Linked DNA regions of Homo sapiens. The protein of the gene in region 3 interacts with the protein of the main gene of each other region in a biochemical or structural test. Each region holds a gene or a part of one and is shown on either strand. Other genes may lie near its edges.

What was found.
Region 1: the proteins of UBE2D1 (region 3) and TRIP12 form a complex in vitro, tested with the Homo sapiens proteins (5 studies listed by BioGRID).
Region 2: the proteins of UBE2D1 (region 3) and BIRC3 form a complex in vitro, tested with the Homo sapiens proteins (5 studies listed by BioGRID).
Region 4: the proteins of UBE2D1 (region 3) and DTX3L form a complex in vitro, tested with the Homo sapiens proteins (5 studies listed by BioGRID).

What each region holds. Positions count from the first base shown.
Region 1 is NC_000002.12:229,855,986-229,863,014, forward strand, and holds part of TRIP12 (E3 ubiquitin-protein ligase TRIP12), read right to left. Parts: intron 4,547-7,029; coding exon 4,421-4,546; intron 3,590-4,420; coding exon 2,787-3,589; intron 1-2,786. UniProt on the Homo sapiens protein: E3 ubiquitin-protein ligase involved in ubiquitin fusion degradation (UFD) pathway and regulation of DNA repair.
Region 2 is NC_000011.10:102,327,480-102,334,508, forward strand, and holds part of BIRC3 (baculoviral IAP repeat-containing protein 3), read left to right. Parts: intron 1-572; coding exon 573-651; intron 652-1,417; coding exon 1,418-1,466; intron 1,467-3,519; coding exon 3,520-3,762; intron 3,763-7,029. UniProt on the Homo sapiens protein: Multi-functional protein which regulates not only caspases and apoptosis, but also modulates inflammatory signaling and immunity, mitogenic kinase signaling and cell proliferation, as well as cell invasion and metastasis.
Region 3 is NC_000010.11:58,331,181-58,338,034, reverse strand, and holds the start of UBE2D1 (ubiquitin-conjugating enzyme E2 D1), read right to left. Parts: upstream 3,030-6,854; 5' UTR 2,834-3,029; coding exon 2,810-2,833; intron 1-2,809.
Region 4 is NC_000003.12:122,567,332-122,574,360, forward strand, and holds part of DTX3L (E3 ubiquitin-protein ligase DTX3L), read left to right. Parts: intron 1-1,157; coding exon 1,158-2,693; intron 2,694-3,123; coding exon 3,124-3,341; intron 3,342-4,346; coding exon 4,347-4,416; 3' UTR 4,417-7,029.

The DNA.
Region 1 (7,029 bases), on a different chromosome or scaffold from region 3:
CAACTGCGCCACTACACACACTCCAGCCTGGGTAATACAGCAAGACTCTGTCTCAGAAAAAAAAAAAAAAAAGTGTATCCTAAAGCACCATTTTTTTTAAAAGAATATGTAACTGCATATGTAAAATACCTGGTACTTATTTTATGCTACACAAACGCTGGTTCCATTCTCTTGTTTCAACAGCTTAGGCTACGATGAGAGATCAGAACTGGGATAGTGGCAGTGAAAACGGAAAAGTGATTTAATAGTGACAACAGAACACAGATACTGTGCAAGTGAATGAAATAATGGTGAAATGAGTTTTAAAATACTAAATTAGTTTGTGACTATGTGCTGAGCAGGCTTAATGGAATTATCTGGATTGGTTTTATCAAACCAGCAGCAAAATGACACTGCCAAAACTCTTGGTGTTTCCTGATTGAAACACCAAGGAGAAAATCCCACTGATTAGCCACTGGTAGAGTTGGGTTTTCTTTTAAAAATCAAGTTAACAGACTATATAAAGAAAAGAAAGCTGATCTCTACAAAGGACCAAGGCCATGACACTCAAGTACAATCTGCTATTGCCTGGCCCTAGAACCCTCCTACACATAAGAGATGAGTTCTTCAAGTGAGGCAGACTGGAAGGCAGAAGGGGAAGTGAATCCTAAGCAGCTTGCTGTAAACTCAACCTGGCTCACTGGCTGTGAATATTACATAGCAGGACTGACAGACACAAAACACAGGGAGGAAAGGCAGCATAAAAGCTGACATATGTAACTCCAATTATCAATAAAGCATTGGAAGGACAAATAGTTGGTTGTCCTTTTAACTTGGACCTTTTTTTCCTTCTCACTTCAAGATACTGATCTAGCCTATCTTAATCCTTTAAACTTAAAACATTTTATACAGATGTTCTGCATATTTAAAATACCAAAACAGAACAAAGTTCAATCTAAAAGTAAAATATGTTACTTCACAATAACCTATCATACAGGTTAAACATAAAATTTTTTATATAGTACCTACTATTAATAGTATTGTCATTTCAGGTAATATGTGAATCAACCAAAAGTAGTTTTAGACTGCAGTGTTAAATTAAACAGAGCTAATAGTTCTGATTCAATTTTAAGTTAGGCTGATTCAATATGAGCTATACTTTGACAAGAATGCTAGTAGACACTATATACAATCTTTTTAAACCAAGAAAACATTATAGCCCTACCCAAATGTAGATCTAAAATCCATCAGAGAAGAAAAGATGCTTAAAAGCAAGCTTCCTAATTAGGTATTATAAAATTAAAATGCTTTTAAAAATTGTAGAGATAAGTGCTTTATTATCCTATTTGTCCTTTATAGGTTTCTGAAATAGAAATAAGGAAAGAAGCCTGGGCACAGTGGCTCACACTTATAATCCCAACACTTTGGGAGGCTGGGACAGGTGGATCACTTGTCCCAGTTCAAGACCAGCCTGACCAACATGGTGAAACTCCCTCTCTACTAAAAATACAAAAATTAGCTGGGTGTGATGGCGCACACTTGTAATCTCAGCTACTCAGGAGAGGCTGAGACAGGAGAATTGCTTGAACCCAGGAGGTGGAGGTTGCAGTGAGCCAAGATCGTACCACTCACACCACTACTCCATCCTGGGCAACAGAGTGAGACTCTGTCTCAAAAAAAAAAAAGAAGGGAGGAAAGAAAAGAAAGACACTAGCATTCCCCAGATGAGCAGCTGGTTCCCTGAAGAAGTCTTTTGGTAAAGAGAGAGGGAGAAGAGTTCCTGGATATCTCCAAAACTGACTCATGAAGGAATGCACATAACGCTATGTTTCTTCCATCTACTTTCTGTTTCTTTGCTTGAATGTATTCTCAAAACACAAATTCTTTCTACTCCACTGTAAACTTTTAGAGAGCAATATTCTTACTCACTTAGGACACAGAGTAGTGTATATAAGAGTAGTGAAACATAAGTAGTATTCATCTTTAGACAAAACTCCTTAAAAGACTGTGAGATATTACATATGAAAAAGTTTAATTTACATTGAGGTATATTTATAGTAATAACTTAATTCACTGTATCTACACATCAAGAATATCTCATATAAAAAAATATATTTGGCCAGGCATGGTAGCTCACACCTGTAATCCCCACACTTTGGGAGGCCGAGGTGAGCAGATCACTTGAGGTCAGAAGTTTGAGACCAACGTGGCCAACACAGTGAAACCCCATCTCTACTAAAAACACAAAAATTACCCAGGCATGGTGTGCACACTTGTAATCCCAGTTACTCTGGAGGCCAAGGCAAGAGGATTGCTTAAGCCCAGGAGGCGGAGGTTGCAGTGAGCCGAGACTGCGCCACTGCACTCCAGCCTAGGCGACAGAGTGAGACTCCATCTAAAAAAACATATATATATTTGATCTCTGATCATGGCAACTCATAACTAAAAAGAACTCCTAACTAAATGATAATTTTGTATGTGGTATAGAAGAAAATCCAACTTTATGTCCCATCCTGATATTAGGAAATCAGTGAAGTAGGAGATGCCGCGAGGACCAATAAAGACACAGACACTAAAATGTGATGGTTTCGTAATAATAGGAAGGTAGTATTCCTTACCTGTCTCAACAAAACTAAATGTAGTAGCACTTACTACATGCTGTTATGTACTTAATTACACAGACAGTAATACATCTAAGATTATCTAAGACTGGGGGGAAAAAACCCTTAACTTTAAAGCATAATTGCTTTTGACAAACCAAGAGAAACTTTCTTTAATTAAAGAAAAATACCTTTTTGTAAACTTACTTGCTAATTTGGCCTGTAATCCAGAAGGTCCAGGTTTTGATGTCTCTGACTTAGAAGACCCTGGAAGAGACAGTTTTGTTTTAGGAAGGCTAACTTTAGGGCTGAAACGAGCAGCCCAATCAAATTTTGAAGAGCCACCAGTTTTACTCTGTTCCTTTTCCCTGCTACTTCTTCTGGGGCTGGGACTGGACGCTGAACGGGAACGCCTGGCCTTGTTCTGATCTTTTCCTTGTTTCACTCTGGCACCTGGTGGTACAGTGGAGGAGGCCGAGGCTACAGCAGAAGACGAGGAGGAAGTAGAGGCAGCAGAAGAAGAATCAGTGATGGTGCTACACCCAGCTTTGGCTGAGGTGGCTGATTTTGAAGCCAGCTTGGTAGGTTTCGCAGATCTCTCTTCTGCACCAGTTGATTCAGACCCGGAGCCACTCTTTACACAAGAACTCTCTGTCCTTTTTCTTTTCTGACTCCGTGAACCGCCAGTGGCCCCACTCTTCCTGGTATGAGCCTTGCTTGTTGATGGTGATTGTGCAGATTTCAGTTGTTGCTCCTGGTCTAAATGTCTCTTCTTTGACTTACTATGTGGCTTATTTGTTTCTGAGGGAGATTCAGTATGCTGAAGTGCTTTTGGTTTTTTTGCAGAGCTAGGAGAATTGGTCCTGTTGTAGTCTGGACTAGCACTGCGCTTCACTCCTCGAGAATTGTCTTTCTTAGGCACCTGCCCCGTTTTTTGTCTTTCTGAAGTATTGGCTCTGTCTGGATCCTCTGGTTGTGGAACTATCACAGCAGATGATGAACTGCAGCTTCTAAGAGGTTAGATAAGAAAACAGTTAATATCAGCCTGTCATAATTACAACTGTCATATATAATGCTTTCAAAAAATAAAGTATGAATATGTTCCTACTAAGTCCAGTATTAAACATAGGTTTTCAGAAGGTTCAAATCTGTAAAACGAAATAAAAGAACAAAACAAAAGCAGATGTGACTTTGGATACTAAAATATCTGATTAAAAGATAAGGGTGTTCTTTAGCCCAAAGATTACTGACACTAACACTCGTAATCACAAAACAAGAATTAAGATTACAAGAAAAACAACACTTAATTGTTCGGAACCAGAGGAAGCCAGAATATTGATGCCCTATTCACAAGCACAACTGCTTTGTCAAAGCTTAGAAGAAATAAGCATTAACATACGCACTTTCAAAATGAAGGTTAGAGATTTTTATATTGTAGTACTATCAAATCTTCAAAGTTAACATTGCTTTCCAAAGTCTCTTAACAATTAAATCTTAAGAATCACTGACTTAAACCTAAACTATGGCTCTGACAATAAAAACTAAAAAAAAGATTAAAAAATAAAAAGAAATAAAAAATGGCCATAATGGTTTGTTAAGCAAAGGGGGAATCTTACGGCTCTCCAAACAAAAATATCATTTTATCATTGACAAACTCACTGTCTAGGGTATACTGCACTAATCACTGCAAAGGTGATAAACTGTCAATCCTAAAAGTTACTTAGAGAATAATGAAAATATGTATCAAAACGTTTTGGAATAACCTCAAGTTTTAACATTATGCAATGATTTGAATGCAAATAATTCTGCCTTGAAAATGTATAAGCAACATGAAGATTTACCTTTTAGAAAGGTGTCCCCTTGACAGTTCAGAAGTAGTATTAGACTGCACTTTGGGTGCCTTAGAATTAGATTTTCTACTCTCAGGAGGGCTATATCCCTTATGTTTTGCCTGCCCTAAATGTGACCTGTCAGCAGAAAATCAAAACAGAAATCTATCAGGAAACTGAGATGCAAATACAATACTGAAAATGAAATATTTTTATATATTTCTTAAAGCTTCCCACAATTCATTGTTGACCCTACCCTTTTTCCAAATATTTATAAATTTTAATTATTATTCTACTAAATAATCTGGCAAAAAGAAATTGCCTCTCAGAACCACCCCCGCCCCGCAATACCGAAGAGTTTATTATCACCAGTAGTCATAATTGCACAGCGTTGTTAAGGTTGCTTAAGCAGTAACACATTTTTCAGCAATTTTAGTGCAGATATTCAAATATGCTACATTTTAACAAAAAGCAAATTTAGACTTTAGATCTAAACACACTTTTAATACATAATGTGACTGTAATGGCTTTAAAAGTTTACGGAAAAGACAATTGATGATTCCCACACTGATACCGATTTCCAATTTGTACTTAAAATTCAGGTAAACACAGCAAATGCAGAGACAGACGAACCAATTCTCAAACTGATTTTACACAGAAAATCATTTCAAGCACTAAACAATAAATAAACCTACATGAAATCAACATAGTGATACTTGCTAAAACTTTAAAGTACTTGTCAACAGAAAGAACACAAAAAAGTCCTGGAGAAATATGGAATTTACCACAAAAGTTCCAAAAAACATTCAAATAATTCCATGATTGATATGGTGCATCATATTTACAATAAATCAAATCCTTATGCCAGCACTATTCTAAAAGCAAGTTTGAGGAACATGAAAAAACTGTTTTCAGTTAGATTATTTTTTAGACCTTGGGGAATGGTTACATGAGATTTACATAAGCAATAAAAAACAAACACATGTTGATATCCAGAAAACTGCTGCCATTCGGGTGAGATATTAATGTAACAAATGCAATTTATGTAATTCATAGCTGATATCCACTTTCCACATAAGAGCATATACCAATGAAAATCTAGAAAAAAGTTTCATTAATACCAAATTTACTTGTTAAAAAAAAGTTTAAGGCTTTTATTCCAAACACCATCTCAAAAGAACTTAGAAATGAGTCACTGAAAATCTCACAAAATAATTCTAACTCAATCTGTAAGGATGCCATAAATTTCTTAAGATATCATACAAGTACAACCATCTGTTCCAAAAGAGGACCTAAGGTTTCTCTTTTCTGTATCACTTCTTCTTCCATCTTTCCAGAATTCATGAAAAGAGTCTTAAAAGAAGGTAAGAAATTAGCTTCTTAAGAAAGGAAATAGTTCCTGGATCCCTCATATCATTTTTGTTTTTAAGGTTCTAATCTGAAAGTAATAATATGTTCTAAAGACTTATTAGAATAGATGAATTTCTTAAAAAAAAATAACAAAAAAACAAAACTCTAGGTGAGCCTTTCAAGTGTTATTAGTCTTCACTTTTAGTAATGAAAGGACACATATACTTCAAGAAGCATATTTTCTAAAGTTGTAGCTAAGCTGAACTTTGTAAGATTTTTTATACATTGTGTTTTTGTTGTTGTTGTTGTTATTTTTTATTTTTTGGTGTTTCAGACAGGGTTTTGCTCTATCGCCCAGGCTGGAGTGCAGCGACACTATCTCGGCTCACTGCAACCTCCGCCTCCCAGGATCATGTGATTTTCCTGCCTTGTATATATTGTGATTTAATTTTAATTTTTCCTAGATATTCTCCCATTGCAGACTAAAATTTTGCTTTAACCAATGAGTTTATTAGAGATTTAATTTCTAAGAGTTGCTTTTGTTTTTGTTATATTTCTACTAACAGATCTCAGAGTTCAACTCTTTTTTCTTCAGAAATGAGACTATTTTTCAAATCATTCCATAGTTATTCTAAAAAAGAGGTGTAACGTTCTGTTTTTGGGGTGTGGAATTTAACAGCTACAGGAAATATAAATTATGTCATTCAGGTCCTCTACATTCTTATTTTCTTAAAGATCGTTGCAGACTGATGTTTTAATTAAATCACGTTTTCTACTTTATTTCATTTTAAAATTTAAAATATAGCTTGTTGCATTCCTTGATAATTAAACAACTCATTCTGAAAGAAAACTACATACATTCAAAGCTAGACAACTTTGTGAAAAATAAATGCCCAAAACAATTAAAAATTATGATTCATTCCATTTGTCATCAGAAACCGGCCCATATGAAACTAAAGGTGAGGTCTGGGGCAGCAGCCCTCCTCTTTTTAACTCAAATAAATTGTTCTGTTGACTTTTATATAGCTTATGTTAGATCCACCTAATTCTACTCCTGTGTTATTTCTCATGCCCTTACTAATACCTTCAATGAACTTAAGAACTTAGCATGTAAACTCTCTATATTATACCACAAAAAGTAAACAGTATTCAAATCATTTAGAAAACCAAGGCTCACAAAACTGGCTTAAATTCAGCAATGCCCAGCAGGGCACGGTGGCTCATGCCTGTAATCCCAGCACTTTGGGAGACAGAGGCGGATGTGTCATGAG
Region 2 (7,029 bases), on a different chromosome or scaffold from region 3:
AAATGCAAAAATTAGCCGGCCATGGTGGCAGGCACCTGCAAGCTCAGCTACTCGGGAGGCTGAGGCACCAGAATCACTTGAACCTGGGAGGCAGAGGTTACAGTGAACTGAGATCATCCCACTGCCCTCCAGCCTGGGTGACAGAGCGAGACTCTGTCTAAAAAAAAAAAAATTAGCAGAAGCATAATGTATCTTGGCAAATATAAAAATATTAATTTTGTAAAACATTCAACCTGTATGAAAAATGTTGACTGTCATGAGAAGCATCTTACAAAACAATTAAAAATTCACACAAAAAATTTGAATCCTGTCATAGGATAACTATGGGTTAGTTTTAGAAAAAAAGTTTTTTTTTTAAAAGCAATACAATAGAATCAGTTCCCAGTGGGCTAGGATGTATTTATTCTTCTAACATTAAGTTTAGAATAAATGATCTTAAATGATTCTGTGATTTGAGGCAAACAACCAGATTTGAAATGGAATAAACACCTAGAGATGAGAAATTTATGTTATTACATTTTCATTTCACTTGTATAAATAATCCCTCAAATTTTATTTTCTTTACATTTTAGGTGTGAGTACTTGATAAGAATTAAAGGACAGGAGTTCATCCGTCAAGTTCAAGCCAGTTACCCTCATCTACTTGAACAGGTAGGGCAAGTTCTTTTTTTAAATATTGGTTGCCATCAGAGAAATTGCTTTCTGATAATTACAGAGAGTGCTATTTGAGTGAAAAGACAAGAGTTGTTTTAGAAATACATTTTCTTTTTCTTATCAAACCTGACATGATTTTAGAAAGTATTATTCTTTGGAGAAAAATAGATCCATAAATGGTAGTCTCCTGATAATGACACTTGTGATGTTTTTCAAACAAGTTGCAATAAATCAAACTTCGAGAAAAAATGACTGGGATAGTAGTATTTAACAGTTTCACTATATAAATTTTCCTTCAAAAGATCTGAGAAAGAGAATTTTATTGCTTTTTCTAACCTTGAGAAAGCAAATAACTTACATAATAGTTTGATGGTCAAACCCATCCTAGCCATGAGCAATGAAACTGATACAGGGTCCAACTTATCCCAAAGGATGACCCAGGGTAGGTAAGACCTGTGGATGAAAGGAAAATTGATTGTCACATGGATTATGGAAAAGATATAGTCCGTTTCCTGCCTTAATGAAAATGGGTTTTGTTATTATATACACACACTGAAACTCTATTAGTTTATGGCCTAGGGAATAACTATCAAATATAAATGAAATATTGCTTTTGGTTAAAAAATTATTTTGCCAGTAAGCAAGTGGTTTGCAACAAGTTGAATAAAATATGTCTGTTGGGTCATTTTCATTGCAATGGGTAAGATAAGATTTCTATTTTAATTTATATATATATATATATATATATTTTTTTTTTCTGCAGCTGCTATCCACATCAGACAGCCCAGGAGATGAAAATGCAGAGTCATCAAGTAAGTACAATGGATAATAATGAATGCATTTAAATAGAGTCATTTGGTACTGTTAATATTGAAAGTTGATAATAGTAATGTACCTGTATATTGATTTATAATTTACGATGAATGCATTTTCAAATATACTGTGTTGGTATTTCCCAAACTTCAGTGCATATCAGAGTTGCCTGGAGAACTTTAAAAAATATGACAGATTTCCAGTTTCTACTTCAGACCTACTGAATTAAATCTGAGTATCTAAAGGTGGGGCTCAGGCATGTATAGTTTTAACAAACTACATACATCCAGCCTAACACTTGTTCTTGGGCCAGTGTGGGAGCAGATGTACTATGATATTAGATTGCTCACATATTCTTTCTGTGAAAGGGAAAGAATAGAACACGTTAGTCACCTTTTTAAATAGGGACGCTGAGGCTCAGAAAGGTTAAATGACTTGTACATCACCTTACACCTAAAATGCAACAGAGCTAATATTTGTACAAGCCCCTCTACTCCATTATCTCATGTTCAATTCAATTCAGTATATATTTATTGTATATTGTATATCGCCTGTTCTGAGGAAAGCATAGAGAACAGGATAGAGCCAACCCAAATGTCCATCAGTGATAGACTGGATTAAGAAAATGTGGCACATACACACCATGGAATACTATGCAGCCATAAAAAGGATGAGTTCATGTCCTTTATAGGGACATGGATGAAGCTGGAAACCATCATTCTGAGCAAACTATCACAAGAACAGAAAACCAAACACCGCATGTTCTCACTCATAGTTGGGAATTGAACAATGAGAACACTTGGACATAGGAAGGGGAACATCACACACAGGGCCTGTTGTGGGGTAGGGGGATGTGGGAGGGATAGCATTAGGAGATACACCTAATGTTAAATGACGAGTTAACGGGTGCAGCACACCAACATGGCACATGTATACATATGTAACAAACCTGCACATTATGCACATGTACCCTAGAACTTAAAGTAAAATAATTTAAAAAAAGGAAAAAAAGAATACAGAACAGGATAAACATAACTCCTGGTCTCATGTATCTACTGGAAACAGACAAATACACAGACAGGAGAAAGGGATATGGCAGCAAAAGTAAAGTGTAATATGAGAGTGCATATAGGACAATTAACCCAGACTTGGAGGGTCAGAAAAGGCTTTCCAAAGGAAGTACTTGTCTTAGCAGAAAATCCAAGGGAAGAGTAGGAGTTAACCGAGTGACAAATGGAAGAAAAGAGTATTCCAGGCAGAGGGAACAGCATATGAAAGACCGAAGTGACAAAGGAGAATAGGCACCTTTGAAGAACTGAACAAAATTCCATATGGCCAGAAGTAGGAGTTGCTAATAGATAAATCAGGGAAGCAGGCCAGCTGTATGAGTGGTCAGCACTACAGGCAGAATTGACACTAGAGCCATCAGTTTGTGACTTCTGGGCTAGAGTGCAGAATGTGAATGATTCAGTGGCAAGAGATGAGGCTGAAGAGGTAAACAAGGTTCAGATTGTATGAGACTTTGTAAGACACTTTATTTTGGATTTTATCCTAAGAGCAATGGAATTGTTGATGGAATTTAAGAAGTGTGACACATCATATTTGTGTTTTTAAAAAGTCACTCTGATTGCACTGTTGAGAATGAATTCCAAGGAAGCAATATTTTATAACCATAGCCTCTCTGAAAAATATGTGAATTATTCTTGATTGAAAACTCATTTGTTCATTCAACATAGGGAAAAATAATCTCAATTCTAGTGGGAGGTAATCCCTGCCATTCTGTTTCCTTCTCCTGCTCACATATGTATATCCAGTTATGACAGGTAATGTGTATTTTGCATCTAAGTACAATATTCCAAGTTGTTATTTAATGACTGAACGTGTATATCATTTTAAATTTAACAATGTTCATACAAAATAATGCCTATACATTTTGTTGGTTTTACATTTTTAATATTATAAAACCTTTCAATTTTTGATTTCATTTCAAATTTCAATTTTTAAGAAATATAAGGCTATCCTAATATGTGTTAAATTCTTTGTTCCATATAGTTATCCATTTTGAACCTGGAGAAGACCATTCAGAAGATGCAATCATGATGAATACTCCTGTGATTAATGCTGCCGTGGAAATGGGCTTTAGTAGAAGCCTGGTAAAACAGACAGTTCAGAGAAAAATCCTAGCAACTGGAGAGAATTATAGACTAGTCAATGATCTTGTGTTAGACTTACTCAATGCAGAAGATGAAATAAGGGAAGAGGAGAGAGAAAGAGCAACTGAGGAAAAAGAATCAAGTATGTAGATTTATTAATACAGTCTATTTTCATAAGGATTTGATATCAGTCTATATGTTATGAAAAATATACTCATCTAGCATATCTGAAAATATACTCAATCCAGTCAGGTTTTTTTCATGTTTAGTATTCTGAATTCAAATGCTGAAAAATTTATTCATATTCAAATATATTTGAGTTGCTCATAAGTCAAAAATGTATGATGTACAAAAGTATTTTTCATGTTTTTCCTTAATTCATATTTTTTTCTCTGGATAGCTGACGTTGTGTCCAATTATGCATTCATGGCACATTTTTTTTTTCTTAACGCTTTGAAAATGGAATCCTTGTTGCATCATGGCACATTTTTAATCCCAGGCTAGTTGCTCACTCCCCTTTGGAGTAAATCAGGGTGGGATCAGGGACAATTATTAATTTTTTTTTGAGACAGTCTTACTCTGTCACCCATGCTGGAGTGCAGTGGCATGATCTCAACTCACTGCAACTTCTGCCTCCTGGGTTCAAGCAATTCTCGTGCCTCCTTCCCTTAGCTGGGATTACAGGCACCTGCCACCATGCCAGGCTAATTTTTGTATTTTTAGTAGAGAAGGGATTTCTCCATGTTGGCCACACTGGTCTCAAACTCCTGACCTCAAGTGATCCGCCCGCCTCGGCCTCCCAAAGTGCTGGGATTACAGGCATGAGCCACCGTGCCTGGCTGGATGGTTATTAATTTTAATGTTAGCATAAAAGCATGTCTTAGCCTGTGACTATACATTAATACACAAATTACTATTAAGTCCCCTACCTGTCCACACAAGAACTGAGTCTTCCAGAGCATCCGTCGATTATTTAGGCAAGTCCTAGTATACTGTTTCACAATCTCTTAGGACAAGTTGTTCATGTCCTTCCATACTAAACGTATCCACTATGTTCTCTATTGCCCTTCACAAAAACTCTTCTGGGCACATACATTCTCATCTGGCTGTTTTGACTGCTATCATCATTCTGTCCTAGACAAAAAGAAATGCTGATCTCTCCTTTCCCAAGCATGGACCAGACCTATAAGTCCCTTCAACACAGCTGAAAACAGACTGCAACTTTTAACAAGCTCTTACTGGAGACTTAAGGAAAACGGAAGGGAATTATATCACAAATGTTGATTTACAGCTGCAACTAGCTGTGACCTCTCTTAGTGCCCCCGGGCTCATCCTCATAAATCTCCCCTGCCTAGCTTCTGGTTCATCTCTGTGTAGCTTTGGCAAGTTTACACAAGTCACTAGGAATGTCCCAATAATGTTTTCCTTTATCAAAATTCAGGCCCCCCCAATATTCATAAAGCTCAGAAGGAGAATAAAGATTTCTCCTTATCCTTGTGCAAGGCCATCTGGGATCTATTTCTTCACAGGATGATTGACAGTCAGATTGTCCACTTCATTTAGGGATAAATCCAACCCTGCCCATGAAGATGGATTTGTTCTCTGACCCAACCCAGACAAACCTATCAGACCATAGTGATATAGCATCATACATTCACCAAAGTGTGAATTACTCAGTCTATAAACCACTAGTGTAGCAGCAATACAGTCACGGTTAACCTTTGCCCAGCCTCATCAAATTCTCTTTTCTCTGTGAAGATTAGGCAAGCATGTCCTTCCTGTAGCCTTCTTAGTGGTAGCCATTTGTCATCAGCCAACAATTGCTCAAAGAAGAGAACACTTATCTCCACAACTGTTGAGAGACCCCATAAAATCTAAAACTATCCACTTATAAAATATTTATATTTCTTTCAAAGACAATCAGAAAAGTCTCCAGAAATGACTTCAAGTCAACAATATATAATAATTTACATTGTGAAAAAGAGCCCTTAGCGTTTCTGCCTCACCATTATATATATATCTCTACTACCTAGTATCGTGCCTGCATATAGTCTGTGTTGTGAGTGAGTGAATGAAAACACATTTAGGTTAATGATTACGTTATAGTTTCCCAAGAATAGTAGGGATATAAATAAAGAGGTAATTTAAGATTTTTTTTTTCCCAGAATAAAATAATAATATGGCTGAGTGTGGTGGCTCACACCTGTAATCACAGCACTTTGGGAGGCTGAGGCAGGCAGATCGCTTAAGCCCAGGAGTTCAAGACCAGGCTGGGCAACATAGCAAAACCCTGTCTGTATAAACAAATATAAAAATTAGCAGGGTGTGGTGGCATGTGTCTGTAGTCCCAGCTCTACTCAGGAGGCTGAGGTGGGAGGACCACTTGAGCCCAGGGAGGTTGAGGCTGCAATGAGCTATGATCATATGCCACTGCATTCCAGCCTGGGCAACAGAGTGAGACACTCTCTAAAAGAAAAAAAAAAAAGAAAGAAAGAAAAGCAAAAACAAAATTAATAATATGCTTCAAAGGCAACTACTCAGGAGGCTCAGGTACAAAAATAGCTTGAACCTGGGAGGCAGAGGTTGCAGTGAGCTGAGATCGCACCGCTGCACTCCAGCCTGGGTGACAGAGCAAGACTCTGTTTTAAAAATGAATAAATAAATAATAAAAGAAATTTTATGGAAGAATGATACTTTAAGAAAAAATTGTTTTAATTCAGGCTGAATGTGGTGACTCATGCCTGTAATCCTAACACCTTGGGAGGCTGAGGCAGGTGGATTGCTTGAGCCCAGGAGTTTGAGACCAGACTGGACAACGTGGCGAGACCCCATCACTACAAAAAATTTTTAAAACAAAGTATTTGTGATGGTGTATGCCTGGTAATCCCAGCTACTCAAGTCTTCTGAACTTGCAAACCAGAATATAGTCTACAACTTTGAAATGAGACTTTTTCTCAGTTACTAGCAATTAAATTTTAGAAATCTTAAGAACTTCAGAGAATGCATTATATTAGGTTACGTATAATTACAAAAATAAATCTTAGATTGAAAAACTAGTATACTTCAACACCAAGTTTGTATTTTTATTTTCTAATATATCCCTACTTTGCTAATAGAAATAATTTAACAAAATATATTAAGTTCTAAGTCTTCTACCCCTCTCACCATTACTTTTCATTCCTACTCTTTAAATTATAGAACTAAGGTTTGATTGTTCATTTGTTCAACAGATATTTATGGAGCATTAACTTTGTGCCAGACACTATTCTAGCTCCTGACCCTTTTCTCATTTATTCTCAGAGCTTCCATTATTTTCAAAATATGTCTTTAGCCTTGTCTTTTTGACTAAGCATCATCTTTATTTTCTGGTTGTTGTTTTTGATTTTTGCTGTTTTCTTTTTTCCATTTT
Region 3 (6,854 bases):
TCTCTACTAAAATACAAAAAATCAGCGGGGCATGGCAGCATGCGCCTGTAGTCCCAGCTACTCAGGAGGCTGAGGCAGGAGAATTGCTTGAACCCAGGAGGCAGAGGTTGCAGTGAGCCGAGATCATGCCACTGCACTCCAGCCTGGGAAACATAGCAAGACTCCATCTCAAAAAAAAAAAGAGATTATCTTTGGACAAAGCACTCCTCCACTCCAGGCCTCTGGATCCTTCCTTGAATAAGGACAGGCCAGAACATCAGTGGTCCTCAGTCTTCTTTCCACCCCAACCGATCTGAGGGATTCAACATCTCTCCATTTATAGAAGTGATGACAGTCTGAAAACGTCCCACAGGTGATTCTAAGACACTGCCTTAGAAGCTGTTCCCCTGCTTGTACCCTCTACTACACTACAGCAGACTTATCTGAGGTTCCACACAACTCTATGGCCTGCCACCATCTATAGGTACAGGAAAATTATATTAATACTTCAGTGAGCTTAAGAAGAAAGGCCAAAAGTTAGTATACATCTTCATTTGTTGGAACATGAAAGATTCAAATAAGAATTCTATACTGATGACATCAAAGAAGATGGTGTAACTGTTCATACGGCAGGCGGCACATCTAACCTAGAATTGGCTTCTAATCAAGGAGGTAGGTAAAGGAGGAGGAAAAGTAGGGAATCAATCAAAATAATCACCCCTAAGGTTTGAGGGATTGGTCTGAATGTGTGATTAATGGAAAGAAGATTTGTGTAAGTCGATTTTCCTGATATCAGAAAGGGAAGCCAAAAATGAACACACAGAGATGTGATGGTGTGTCATCCCCAATTTCTTTTCCAAAATATCAATTTGTCACATGTTTGATATCAATTCTATGTAAGTAATTTTTTTTTTTACTCAACAATTCTATAAACTAATAACCAATAAATACTAAAAAGATTTGGACACACGCCATATTATAAATATAAATCAAATACACTAGTTCAGCATGGTGATTGATGAGAACTGCCAAGGGTGGTATTTACAAATAATGTTCATATTTCTTTGAATATCCACTTACTGTGGACAAATTATACAGCTTAAGCTATTGTTAGTTGGGTATGGTGACTTGTGTCTGTAATCCCAGACTTTCTGGAGGCCAGGAGTTCAAGATCAGCATGGGCAATATAGTGAGATCCCCATCTCTTAAAAAAACACAATGAAATTTAAAAAGCTCTTGTATGTGCAAAATCATGTGAAAAATTCTCACAACTAGGAAAGAAGGAAATAGAATTTGAAAACTTCCTTGGAAGATGTGCATTTTCTGATCCAAATGTGAACCAATATTACTTCGTCATTAATAAGTATGCAAGGTATGGTAAAGATGCTAAGGCTTCAAAATTAGGGTATTTATATAAAACAATGTGTAATTGCGCTACCTTCAAACAAGAAAACATTATTACTTAATAAATGCTGATGCTGATTGTTAACTGTATGTTTTACAATGAGATGACCTTTAAATGGCACAAAAAATAACAGGTGATCCACAGATTTAGAATTTGAAAATAAAAAACTGGCAGGCTCTAAAAGTTGCTGTCCTCTGTACCTAAAGATGTCACCAGTGGCGAGTCAGAATGCAATGCGTACGTCACTATCACTGCTCTAACATATACTATTGCTATAATGGACTCCTGGTCAAAAAAGTGGATAAAAATGTGGGCATCAATTTCTTCTGAAACAACTACAAAATACACTGTCCATTGTTGCTTAACTTAGTGAAAAGCACTCCCTATTTAACAAACACATTCTCAATGTTGCCAGTGTGAACTGTAACTGTAAAACCTAAAACTTGGGTCAGTACACAGACCAACAAGAAATAAAAATGAACAGAAAGAAATGCCCGAATCTGAATTCTGAAGGATGTTCGCATCTGAAATGGTGGCAATAAATACTGTGAAAAAAAGACGATTCCATACACAGGGTTGAGATGGGTAAACAGTTGTTGGATGAAGATATATATTTCTTCCTCATTCTATACCCATGTGTCAAAGCATCAAAACAATTTATTTGCGACAGTTTATGTTGTGTCTCGAACTTTACATCTAAGTTTATCATGAGGGGGAAAAAAACCTGTTTGGCTTGACTCACCGTGAATCACAGCCAGGAGGTCATCTTGTTGTGTATCAGCAACTATGTTTTCGCTACAGCTATGTGACCTGAAGTGGCAGCAGCAGAGGCACCAAAATAGAAGGGGCAGGAGCCTTCTCCTGACTTCTTGGCCGCAAATGGGCTTTCCAGCCCATTCGGGCAACTGAGCAAGAGCCAACCGCAGAGGAGAGAAAGAACCAACCCGACAGCTCCGCGGAGAAAGGCTGCAGGCCCACCCCACCTTCCTTGCCCTCCCGGGGAGGCCGGGTAAGCAAGAACATAAAAGAGGACAGGCTTAAGAAACAGCCTGGAGAAAACACAGCATGACAGGGGTCAAAACTAGCCCCATGGAGGGCAAAACCCGGCCGTGACCGTGAAGCACAGATTTCGGGACGGTCTGGACGCGCAAGAGGCTCTCTACCCTGGGGCTCCGGGAGCGGCTCCGGCGCGAACGCGCGCGGGCCCCCAGCCTTCAAGCTCCTCCGGCCGCCTGGGACCTGACCCTGCTCCCACCTCACCTGTCCGATGCCCGCTGGCCCGGCCCGAGCCTTCAGCTCCCTGCCCGCACCCCGGCCCACCCTTCCATCCCTTGCTCTCCCCGCATGTCTCTCGGGACCACTGGCCGAGTCAGCGTGGGCAGGGGGCCGCTGCCCCGCAGCCCCAGGCCCGGCCCCGGCACTCACTTTCTGAATCCTCTTCAGCGCCATGGGTCAGGGATGGCGGTGGGGACACCGGCCGGCAGGGGTCGGCTGCGGGGCTCAGGGGCGTGGGTCGTCGCGGGTTGGGCTCGCTGGCAGCTAGGCTGGCTCCGCGCGGTGGGTCCCCGGTTAGCCGCTCCCTGGCTCGCTCCGGGCGCCGGTCCCTGCTCCGTGTGCGCCCGAGCGCGAGTGTGCGCGAGTGTGCGGGCGGGGACGCCGGCGAGACTCTTTTGTTTCCGCTTTTGCTTCTGGGAAGGAGCCTGCGCCCTCCCCGCCGCGCCCCGCCCCGCCTGGCACACTGGGAAGTGTAGTTCCAGCCCTGTCCTCGGCTGCAGGCCCCCGGACGCTGCCAGGTAACTTACTGCTGACCTCAGCCAGGCAGCTTAAGGTGAGAGCTGCCGGGGGCTGGAATTAGCCTCTACAGTCTCATTTAGAGCAAATTGCTGAACCTGGGGCTGCGCATCTGTAAAATGGGGATAACAAATGAGCTCCTAACGCACATAAAGGAATTTCTAAATCATCAGTTAGTAATTCCTTATCCAATAGGTGCCACAGCTGGTTTTATTATTTTTACCTTTAAAGATTTCACTGTCTTTTCTCAAATATATGGATTGTCTCACTCACCCTGCACACATGCACAAACTCATATCAGACCCCCTACTTACCTCCTTGGTTCTTATTGCAGAGGAAAAAGGTGTCTCTTCTGTCCAATGTGCAAATCTTCCTTGTCTGAGTGCATTGTCTGCTCGTAGGTATGCCCCTCCCATAAATTACCCACTTCGAACACCGAGTTCTGGGCTCTCACTCCCATCATTGGTTCCTTCCCTTCCGTTGACAGTCCCTGACCAATAGTCAACTCACGCTCCCCACTCTCCAATTCCTATGCACTTGTGTACCCATTAAAACTTGGCTTCTTGGCCAAGATGAGATTTGGGTGGGGACACAGCCAAACCATATCACTCAGGGATATAAAGATGGCAACAAATAGACACTGTGGACTACTAGAGAGGGGACCGAGGGAGCAAAGGTTGAAAAACTGTTGGGTACTATTGTCAGTACCTGGGTGATAAAATCATTCATACCACAAATGTCAGCATCACACAGCATACCCAGGTAGCAAACTTGCATATGTGGCCTCTAAATCTAAAATAAAAGTTGAAAAACAAAAACAAACAAACAAAAACAGAATCTTGAGCCCCACTCCAGACATGCTACATCACACTTTGCAGTTTAATAAGACTCCTAGGTGATTCAGATGAACATTAGGGTTTGAGAAGCACTATGCTGGAAGGCATAAGAGGAGATCCTAAAAATGCAGATTTCCTTTAAAGGATTTAATTTAGCAGTAAGTTTTGGGTGAAGCTCTGGAGTCTAAACTTTAGAACAAACTTCCCAGGAAGTTAGGATGCAGGTATCTGAGGACACTTTTGAGAATCTCCACCTTGAGCAAATCTTCAAATCCTTCTAAGCCTCAATTTCCTCACCCATAACTAATGCAATAAATGTTGTATTTGTTTAAAGGGAATAGAGCTGAAACTTTTGGTGCCCTTCTAACTCAAAGGTCTATGATTTGCACAAAAAATGGTGATTTTTTTCTCTTCTTTATAAATAGAAAGAAACCTAAAAAGTAAGCTTACAAGATTATTTTTGTCTTTCCTAGGGCAGTTTACCTCCCAACAAAAGAGAAATTAACACTTATTAAAAAAATCTACGTTGGTATCTTGCAATAATAGTTTACACTTTAAGATTGCTTTAAATGGGCTGGGCACAGTGGCTCACGCGTGTAATTCCAGCACTTTTGGAGGCCAAGGCAGGTGGATCACCTGAGGTCAGAAGTTCGAGACCAGCCTGGTCAACATGGTGAAACTCCTTCTCTACCAAAAATTCAAAAATTAGCCAGGCGTGTTGGCACATGTCTGTAATCCTAGCTACTTGGGAGGCTGAGGCAGGAAAATCGCTAGAACCTGGGAGGCAGCAGTTTTACTGAGCCGAGATGGAGCCATTGCACTCCCGCCTGGGTGACAGAGTGAGACTCCATCTCAAAAAAAAAAAATTGCTTTAAGCTTTTCAAAACATTTCACACACATTTTTGCAACATGCAAATACATGTGCAACATATAGTAGTTCAGTGTGTTATTTAATCTCCTACTCTTTCTCCCAGGATGTAGTTTCAAAACATAGTTTGTGATCAACTGCATAACTAATTCAAAAATGTTACTTAATGCTTACTATATGCCAGGCACTGAAGACACATGATAAAGAAAATAGACAAGATCCCTACTCACAAGCAGAACATCAAAATCCTATGGGGTGGGGAGGAGGGTACAAGACTTGTTAAAAATGCAGATTTCTAGGCATCAGGCCACACTGTCAATAAATAATCCTTGCCCTCTGAATTATCTCTGTTTGGGATATTATACTGCACTAGGTGGTAAAATATATGCAAAAGAAAGATTATATTTGGTCTTACCTTCCATAAACTTAAAATCTTCATGGTAGGAAGATAAATGCATAAAACAAATAAGTAGCAATGCAAGATATTCATTCATTCAGTCAGTCAGTCAGTCATGCAGACAACAGCAACAACAAATTTCAGGAAAATTTCCTTAAAGCAAAACAAATGGTGCAGAGGATAAGGGCTAAAGATGTTCAAAAGGGCATTGCCATGGACGGAGAGTAAGGGAAACTTTGTAGAGACAATAGAACTTGAATGCAAGACGCATTTGGAAAAGCAAAAGAATAGGTGAAGAACTTCCAATCGTAAGGAAATGCATGTGGAATGGACATAAGTATGAAATGCTCAACATGGAGGCCAAGCAAGGAAATACAACTAAGTCCAATGGTTGAGATCAGATAGTGAAGGACATTGACTGTTAGTCTTAGAAACATGAAATTGAGCTTAAATGCAACAAGAGGTTGTGTATCAGGAGAGTATTATTGTGACAGTGATGCATTAAATAGACAATTAGTCTAGTGGAGGGACATGGAATGAGGACAGAATCAGGAAAGGGAAACAAGTTCAATTACTATTGCAGTATTTAGGACCAAAATAATAAGGGCCTGCCTGTACAAGGTTGATAGCACTAGAAACCCAAAGAAGAACTTTTTGAGAAAAAAAAAAAAAAAAGCCATGGAACTTTGTTGCAATTACATACAGAAGTAGAAAAATAGAAGAGTAAATATGAACTCTAAATTTATGAGTGGTGGATTGAGTTAAAGGTGTTAACATTGATAAGCTTTTGGAGGGGAGAATGGTAAACCGAGCTTAAGACATACACATATATGAAATGTATGTGGTATTCAAGTGGAACTTCCCTAGTGGTAGGTAGAGATATGGGGCTGAGAATATGGATATGAGAGCAATCATGTGAGAGAATGATTTTGAAACCGTAAGATACAAATTGCTTCCCAAAGAGGAAAGGGGAAGACAGAGAAAAGAGAAGGCACTAGAAAATGGGCTTTGGGGAGCAGCAACAGTGAAGACCTATGAGGAAAAAGATGGGTCATGGGTGGGAAAGTAAGTGGAATACCAAGAGTGTTTTGTGTAGTGGCAGCAAAGAAAAGTGAGAGCTTTAGGTAGGAAAATAGCTTCAAAAAGATGTATTTTGCAACAGGGATCTAAGGGAATAAGGAACAGGAAATGGATATCAGAATTAGTGAGGTGCTACCTTCAAGGATAGTGTTTAAGAAGGGTGATGGGTAAATAAGACATAGTGAAAGATAAATGGGTAAATTAAATGGAGTCAAGCAGTGCTTATCACACTTTGGAAAATGCTGGGGAGGAAGGGGCATGAGATAGGAACTAAAAGAGGGCCTGTGATTTTTCCAAATGTGATCTCTGCATGCTTGAAGGTAGATGTGAAAGAGTTAGTGGGTCTATTATGTATTGCTTCAAAGCAAATTACCCTAACCCATAGCAGCTTAAATCAACAATCAACATTTATCATCTCACATAGTTTCTGTGGGTCCGGAATTTGTGAGCATCTTAGCCGGGTGGTTCTTCCTTGAGGTCTTTCATAAAGTTGCAGTC
Region 4 (7,029 bases), on a different chromosome or scaffold from region 3:
GAGAGTTAGAGCCTGGTTAGGAGGGGTTGCAGTGCGCCAGGTGAAAGATGATAATGGCATGCACTTTGGTGGCCTTGATGGAGGTGTGAGAAATGGCTGGATTCAGGAAACATTTTGAAGATCTAGAGGAAGGATCTTAACATGCAAAGTCCTTGAGAAGGAACAAAACATTAGGAATTTTGCTTTTATATTACAGTCAATTGGTCTCTGTCCTTTTTATCTTAACCTGGCGTGTCTTATATTTGAGCTTCTAAAGGCCAGGGTTTAGAAGGGTCCACAACTTTGCATGCAGTCGAGTGTTTAGTTGAAACAAGAATAAAGGAGGAAGAGTGAAGAAGAGAAAAAATAGTAATAGGAAAAGCCATTGCCCTCAGTTTTATGGCTCCCTTCCAAGTTCACAAACTTTTGTGAGGGCCACAACAACTTGCCCAGAGAGCACAGGTGCCTTCCCTTGACTGCTGTTCCCAAGATCAAACAGCTAGTGGCAGTTGTAGAACACGGATCTCTTGGCCATGGAGCTTTTAGAAATGCTCATGCCCAGGCTCCACTGCAGATTAGTTAACATCAGAATCTCTGGGGATGTGCTTGGGCTTTGGCTGGTTTGTTTTTCCCTGAATTCGCCAGGTGAGTCTTATATGCAGACAGGGCTGAGAACCTCTGGGATGTAGCGTGCTGTATCCTCTAAAAAGGATTTGAGACCAGGCACGGTGGCACATGTCTGTAATCCCAGCACTTTGGGAGGCTGAGGTGGGTGGATCACCTGAGGTCAGGAGTTCCAGGCTAGCCTGACCAACATGGAGAAACCTCGTCTCTACTAAAGATACAAAATTAGCCGGGCGTGGTGGCACATGCCTATAATCCCAGCTACTCAGGAGGCTGAGGCAGGAGAATTGCTTGAACCCGGGAGGCGGAGGTTGCAGTGAGCTGAGATCGCGCCATTGCACTCCAGCCTGGGTAACAAGAGTGAAACTCCATCTTGAAATAAATAAATAAATAAATAAATAAATAAATAAATAAATAGGATTTGAAAGAAGTTGCCCCCACTTGGGAAAGATGTAGTGGTTGTTTCTCTAGTCTCTATGCATTCTCCTGAAGAGAAGATGGTAGGCCTGCATGCTGAGAGGTTTTATTTGTTCCTGTTCCTTTTAAAATTTCAGATCTTTCTTACTGTAACAGCTGACCTGAACTGTAACCTGTTCTCCAAAGAGCAGAGGGCATACATAACCACACTGTGCCCTAGTATCAGAAAAATGGAAGGTCACGATGGAATTGAGAAGGTGTGTGGTGACTTCCAAGACATTGAAAGAATACATCAATTTTTGAGTGAGCAGTTCCTGGAAAGTGAGCAGAAACAACAATTTTCCCCTTCAATGACAGAGAGGAAGCCACTCAGTCAGCAGGAGAGGGACAGCTGCATTTCTCCTTCTGAACCAGAAACCAAGGCAGAACAAAAAAGCAACTATTTTGAAGTTCCCTTGCCTTACTTTGAATACTTTAAATATATCTGTCCTGATAAAATCAACTCAATAGAGAAAAGATTTGGTGTAAACATTGAAATCCAGGAGAGTTCTCCAAATATGGTCTGTTTAGATTTCACCTCAAGTCGATCAGGTGACCTGGAAGCAGCTCGTGAGTCTTTTGCTAGTGAATTTCAGAAGAACACAGAACCTCTGAAGCAAGAATGTGTCTCTTTAGCAGACAGTAAGCAGGCAAATAAATTCAAACAGGAATTGAATCACCAGTTTACAAAGCTCCTTATAAAGGAGAAAGGAGGCGAATTAACTCTCCTTGGGACCCAAGATGACATTTCAGCTGCCAAACAAAAAATCTCTGAAGCTTTTGTCAAGATACCTGTGAAACTATTTGCTGCCAATTACATGATGAATGTAATTGAGGTTGATAGTGCCCACTATAAACTTTTAGAAACTGAATTACTACAGGAGATATCAGAGATCGAAAAAAGGTATGACATTTGCAGCAAGGTTTCTGAGAAAGGTCAGAAAACCTGCATTCTGTTTGAATCCAAGGACAGGCAGGTAGATCTATCTGTGCATGCTTATGCAAGTTTCATCGATGCCTTTCAACATGCCTCATGTCAGTTGATGAGAGAAGTTCTTTTACTGAAGTCTTTGGGCAAGGAGAGAAAGCACTTACATCAGACCAAGTTTGCTGATGACTTTAGAAAAAGACATCCAAATGTACACTTTGTGCTAAATCAAGAGTCAATGACTTTGACTGGTTTGCCAAATCACCTTGCAAAGGCGAAGCAGTATGTTCTAAAAGGAGGAGGAATGTCTTCATTGGCTGGAAAGAAATTGAAAGAGGGTCATGAAACACCGATGGACATTGATAGCGATGATTCCAAAGCAGCTTCTCCGCCACTCAAGGGCTCTGTGAGTTCTGAGGCCTCAGAACTGGACAAGAAGGAAAAGGGCATCTGTGTCATCTGTATGGACACCATTAGTAACAAAAAAGTGCTACCAAAGTGCAAGCATGAATTCTGCGCCCCTTGTATCAACAAAGCCATGTCATATAAGCCAATCTGTCCCACATGCCAGACTTCCTATGGTATTCAGAAAGGAAATCAGCCAGAGGGAAGCATGGTTTTCACTGTTTCAAGAGACTCACTTCCAGGTTATGAGTCCTTTGGCACCATTGTGATTACTTATTCTATGAAAGCAGGCATACAAACAGTAAGTATTTCTCAAGTCCATGGGTTTCTTGCCACTATGCTACGATTACCAGGGCAAAAGAGACTGTCCTGTTGCCTATTAGACAATAGATTTCCCAAGGAATTATCTCCAGGGTCATGTGCAAGGGACTGAAATAGTGGTAAAGGTCACAATGTTTGCTGGTAATTCAAATACCTTTTGTGTCTATTTCTTAAGACAGAGAAAGGGTGGGTGGAGATTATATCTTGAGATGGGGGTATCAGGAAGGTGGACAGTGTTTCCAGCATGAATTCAAGGAAAGAGGAGAAATATGAGTTATTGGGAATATGAGCATAACTTCAATACCTTTCTTGCTTTTGATTTGCTTTATCTACAAATGAACACATCTATACCTATAGTAAAAATTAGACAGGGCACTCTTTTCACATGACATTTTCTTGTTCTCACACAGGAAGAACACCCAAACCCAGGAAAGAGATACCCTGGAATACAGCGAACTGCATACTTGCCTGATAATAAGGAAGGAAGGAAGGTTTTGAAACTGCTTTATAGGGCCTTTGACCAAAAGCTGATTTTTACAGTGGGGTACTCTCGCGTATTAGGAGTCTCAGATGTCATCACTTGGAATGATATTCACCACAAAACATCCCGGTTTGGAGGACCAGAAATGTGAGATCCTTTTGGGATGTAATGGCTGCTCAACAGAGTATAGGGATTATGAAATACGGCAATTTCTGGATGTGGATATAAGTAGACTCTATAGCAGTGGAATTGGTGTTTTGAGAGCTGCTGATCGGGGATGGTAATCTCAAAGACAGAAAGATTGGTCCCCATCAACTTCTACCCTGCCAGCTATAAAGTACTATGGAGTTATTTAAATTTTGCACCAAAGGACAGGGGGCTTTTGAATCCGAGATGAATACTATATAAGCTGATTTAATTTGAGGCGTTGTGTCTATCTGAAGGCTAGATGCTCGGAATGTCACTTTGCTTCCTTTTAAGGTCACCTTTCTTTTTCACCCCTTCCCCCACCAGTCCACAGAGAACCTGAAATCACTTGGCCAATAATATTCTAGAAAAAGTCTAAGTTGTGAGGAGACTATTGGTAGAAACTGTATTATACGAAATCCAATTGTTCTTTATGAAACCCAAATAGGATTCCTCAGACCCTTGGCACTAAAGAAAAAATATATACCCTGAGACTTTTCCAAAACCTTAAATTTGAAAATCCTACTAGCATGTGATTACGATGCCCCCCTAAAACACAGTATATTATTATATTTTTAGGAGAGTCACTACTTACCATAAACTGAAAAATTTTAAGAATTAACATAGACATGAAGCCTCAAAGTAAATCAACGTATTACTATTCATCTTGGATTCTCAAACCCCCTGCCCTTTGATGCGAAATGTAATAAATACATCATATTAATACTTTGTAGTTGGCAGGGTAGAAGCCAGCTTGAAAGGCAGATGCTGGCCAGACAGCTAGGCTCACTCGCTAGCGAAATGACTCGCATCTGCGAATTTAAAAGTCATGATACGTCATCCACCTTCAGGATTACTTGTGAATGTTTGCAACACTGGATATTAATTAAATCCTTAAATGCTGGATATCTATTGCACATATCCGAACAATTTGTGGTGACACTAAAGGAATTTTTGTTTCTTCAGGTATGGCTATCCTGATCCTTCTTACCTGAAACGTGTCAAAGAGGAGCTGAAAGCCAAAGGAATTGAGTAAGACAACTGCTGGAAGATGTCTTAAATCAAGCTTTCAAAAAAATATATTTTAGGAGGCTGATTTAATGCCAGTCTAAATCCTTATGTAGAAAGGACTTTGAAATTTTTCTTCTCAAGAAATGGTTTGTATAAGAATAACAATCTGCTAGTCTGTCATTTCTGGAGTGATACTTTTTTTTTTGAGACGGAGTCTGCTCTGTCGCTCGCGCTGGAGTGCAGTGGCATGATCTCGGCTCACTGCAAGCTCCGCCTCCCAGGTTCATGCCATTCTCCTACCTCAGCCTCCCGAGTAGCTGGGACTACAGGCGCCCACCACCATGCCCGGCTAATTTTTGTTTTTGTATTTTTAGTAGAGACAGGGTTTCACTGTGTTAGCCAGGATGGTCTCGATCTCCTGACCTCGTGATCCGCCCGCCTCAGCCTTCCAAAGTGTTGGGATTATAGGCGTGAGCCACCGCGCCCAGCCCTGGAGTGATACTTTTTATGGAAGACAAAAGCCCCCCAAATCTGTGTAAAATCTGCTGCAAAGGTGTCATCCCTCTTGTGTCATCACTGGGGTTAGAGGTGGGTCCGAAATAATCTTCTGTGTCCTTCAGTTGGACTCTCGGCTGCCAATTGATCTCTTTTTCATTGCCATCTCTGGGGTGGTTCTTTGGTTTTTTGTGTGTTTTCCCCTTCATCTCTACCTGTGAAAGTGAAATTCTATTGTAAATGGGAGGAAAAAGGGTTGGTTGTGAAAAATTAAAGACCCACATTCTGCTTTCTTACTCATGGTAAGAAAAGTGGCCATGAGTAGAGATTGGGCAAGCATTGGTAATAAATGGAATAAGACTATTATTATTATTATTTGAGATGGAGTCTCACTCTGTCACCCAGGCTGGAATGCAGTGGTGTGATCTTGGCTCACTGCAACCTCCACTTCCCGGGTTCAAGCGATTCTCCTGCCTCAGCCTCCTGAGTAGCTGGGATTACAGGTGTGTGCCTCCACACCCGGCTAATTTTTTGTATTTTTAGTAGAGACGGGGTTTTGCCATGTTGGCCAGGCTGGTTTCAAACTCCTGAGCTCAAATGATCCTCCTGCCTTGGCCTCCCAAAGTGCTGGAATTACAGGCATGAGCCACCACACCCACACAAGACTATCATTTTTAATGACCAAGAGCCTAGTATATAGTTGGTGCCTGTCTTAGTCTGTTTGTGTTGCTATAAAAGAACACCTGAGACTGGGTAATTGATAAAGAAAAAGGTTTGTTTGGCTCACAATTTTGCTGGCTAGAAGGTTGGGCATCCGGTGAAAGCCTCAGGCTGCTTCCATTCATAGCAAAGGGCAGCCAGTGTGTGCAGAAATCAAATGACAGAGAGGAAGTGAGAGAGAGAGGTGTCGGGGAGGTGCCAGGCTCTTTTTAACAAGCAGTTCTTCAGGAACTAAGAGTGAGTCACTCCCATGAGAACAGCACCAAGCCATTCATGGGGGAATCTGCCCCCATGACCCAGACCCCTCCCGTTAGGCTTCACCTCCAACACTGAGGATCAAATTTCAACATGAGATTTGGAGGAGGTCAAACAAACTAAACTGTAGCAGTGTTTCATAAAATTGTTTGCCTGACTCAGGTTGCTAGTAAGCCAGCAGAGGGATATTTGCCTCCTAAATCTTTGGCAGAGGCAGGAGTAAGGAAGCCATTTCTGGAGTCCTTGCTACTAATTTGGAAAACTGAGCTTCTTTCTTTCATTGCTTTTTCCCTTAAGAGACAAGTCCTTACTATATTGCCCTGTCTCTCAAGGGAAGACATCAAGACTGGACTTGAACTCCTGGGCTCAAGCCATCCCCCAACCTTGGCCTCTCGAGTAGATGGGATTATAGGCATGTGCCACGGTGCCTGACTTGAGTTTCTTATTCTAGAACACTTGGAGCCTGAACTCTGACCAGGCCCCTCACTTGAGCCTTTGCTTTCTGCTCCTTGTAAACTGCCATATTGGGTGCACTTGCCCTGCCACAGTAATGCTATATATTTCTGAGCATTGTTTTTCTCTAGATAATTTTATATTTTTGAGTATACCCCACTTCCAAGTGTTTTTTGTTTTGTTTTGCTTTGTTTTTGTTGTTGTTGTTTTGAGACAGGGTCTCACTGTGTCCCCCAGGCTGGAGTGCAGTGGCACAATGACGACTCACTGCAGCCTCAACCTCCTGGGGCCAAGTGATCCTCCCACCTCAGCCTCTCAAGTGGCTGGGACCACAGAAGTGCACCACCATGCCTGGCTTTTTTTTTTTTTTTTGGTCGAGATGGGGTGTCCCTGTGTTGCCCAGACTGGTCTTGAACTCCTGGACTCAAGGGATCCTCCTGTCTTGGGCTCCCAAAGTGTTGGGATTACAGGCGTGAGTGACCATGCCTAGCTCACTTCCAGGTTTAACAGACAAAATAAACTTACTCTAGTTTCCATCTCTATCATTTTATAATAACCGTAGCCCACATTGTAGTAGTTTTTCAGCTCTTTACTAAGTCCCACCAATTCATGTTTTCACCCTTAAAATCTTTCTCACTGATACTCTCTCTGGACAGAAAAAAGGTGAAATAAGCCTACTATAAGGAATATATGACATGCTAAATTTTATTTTTAA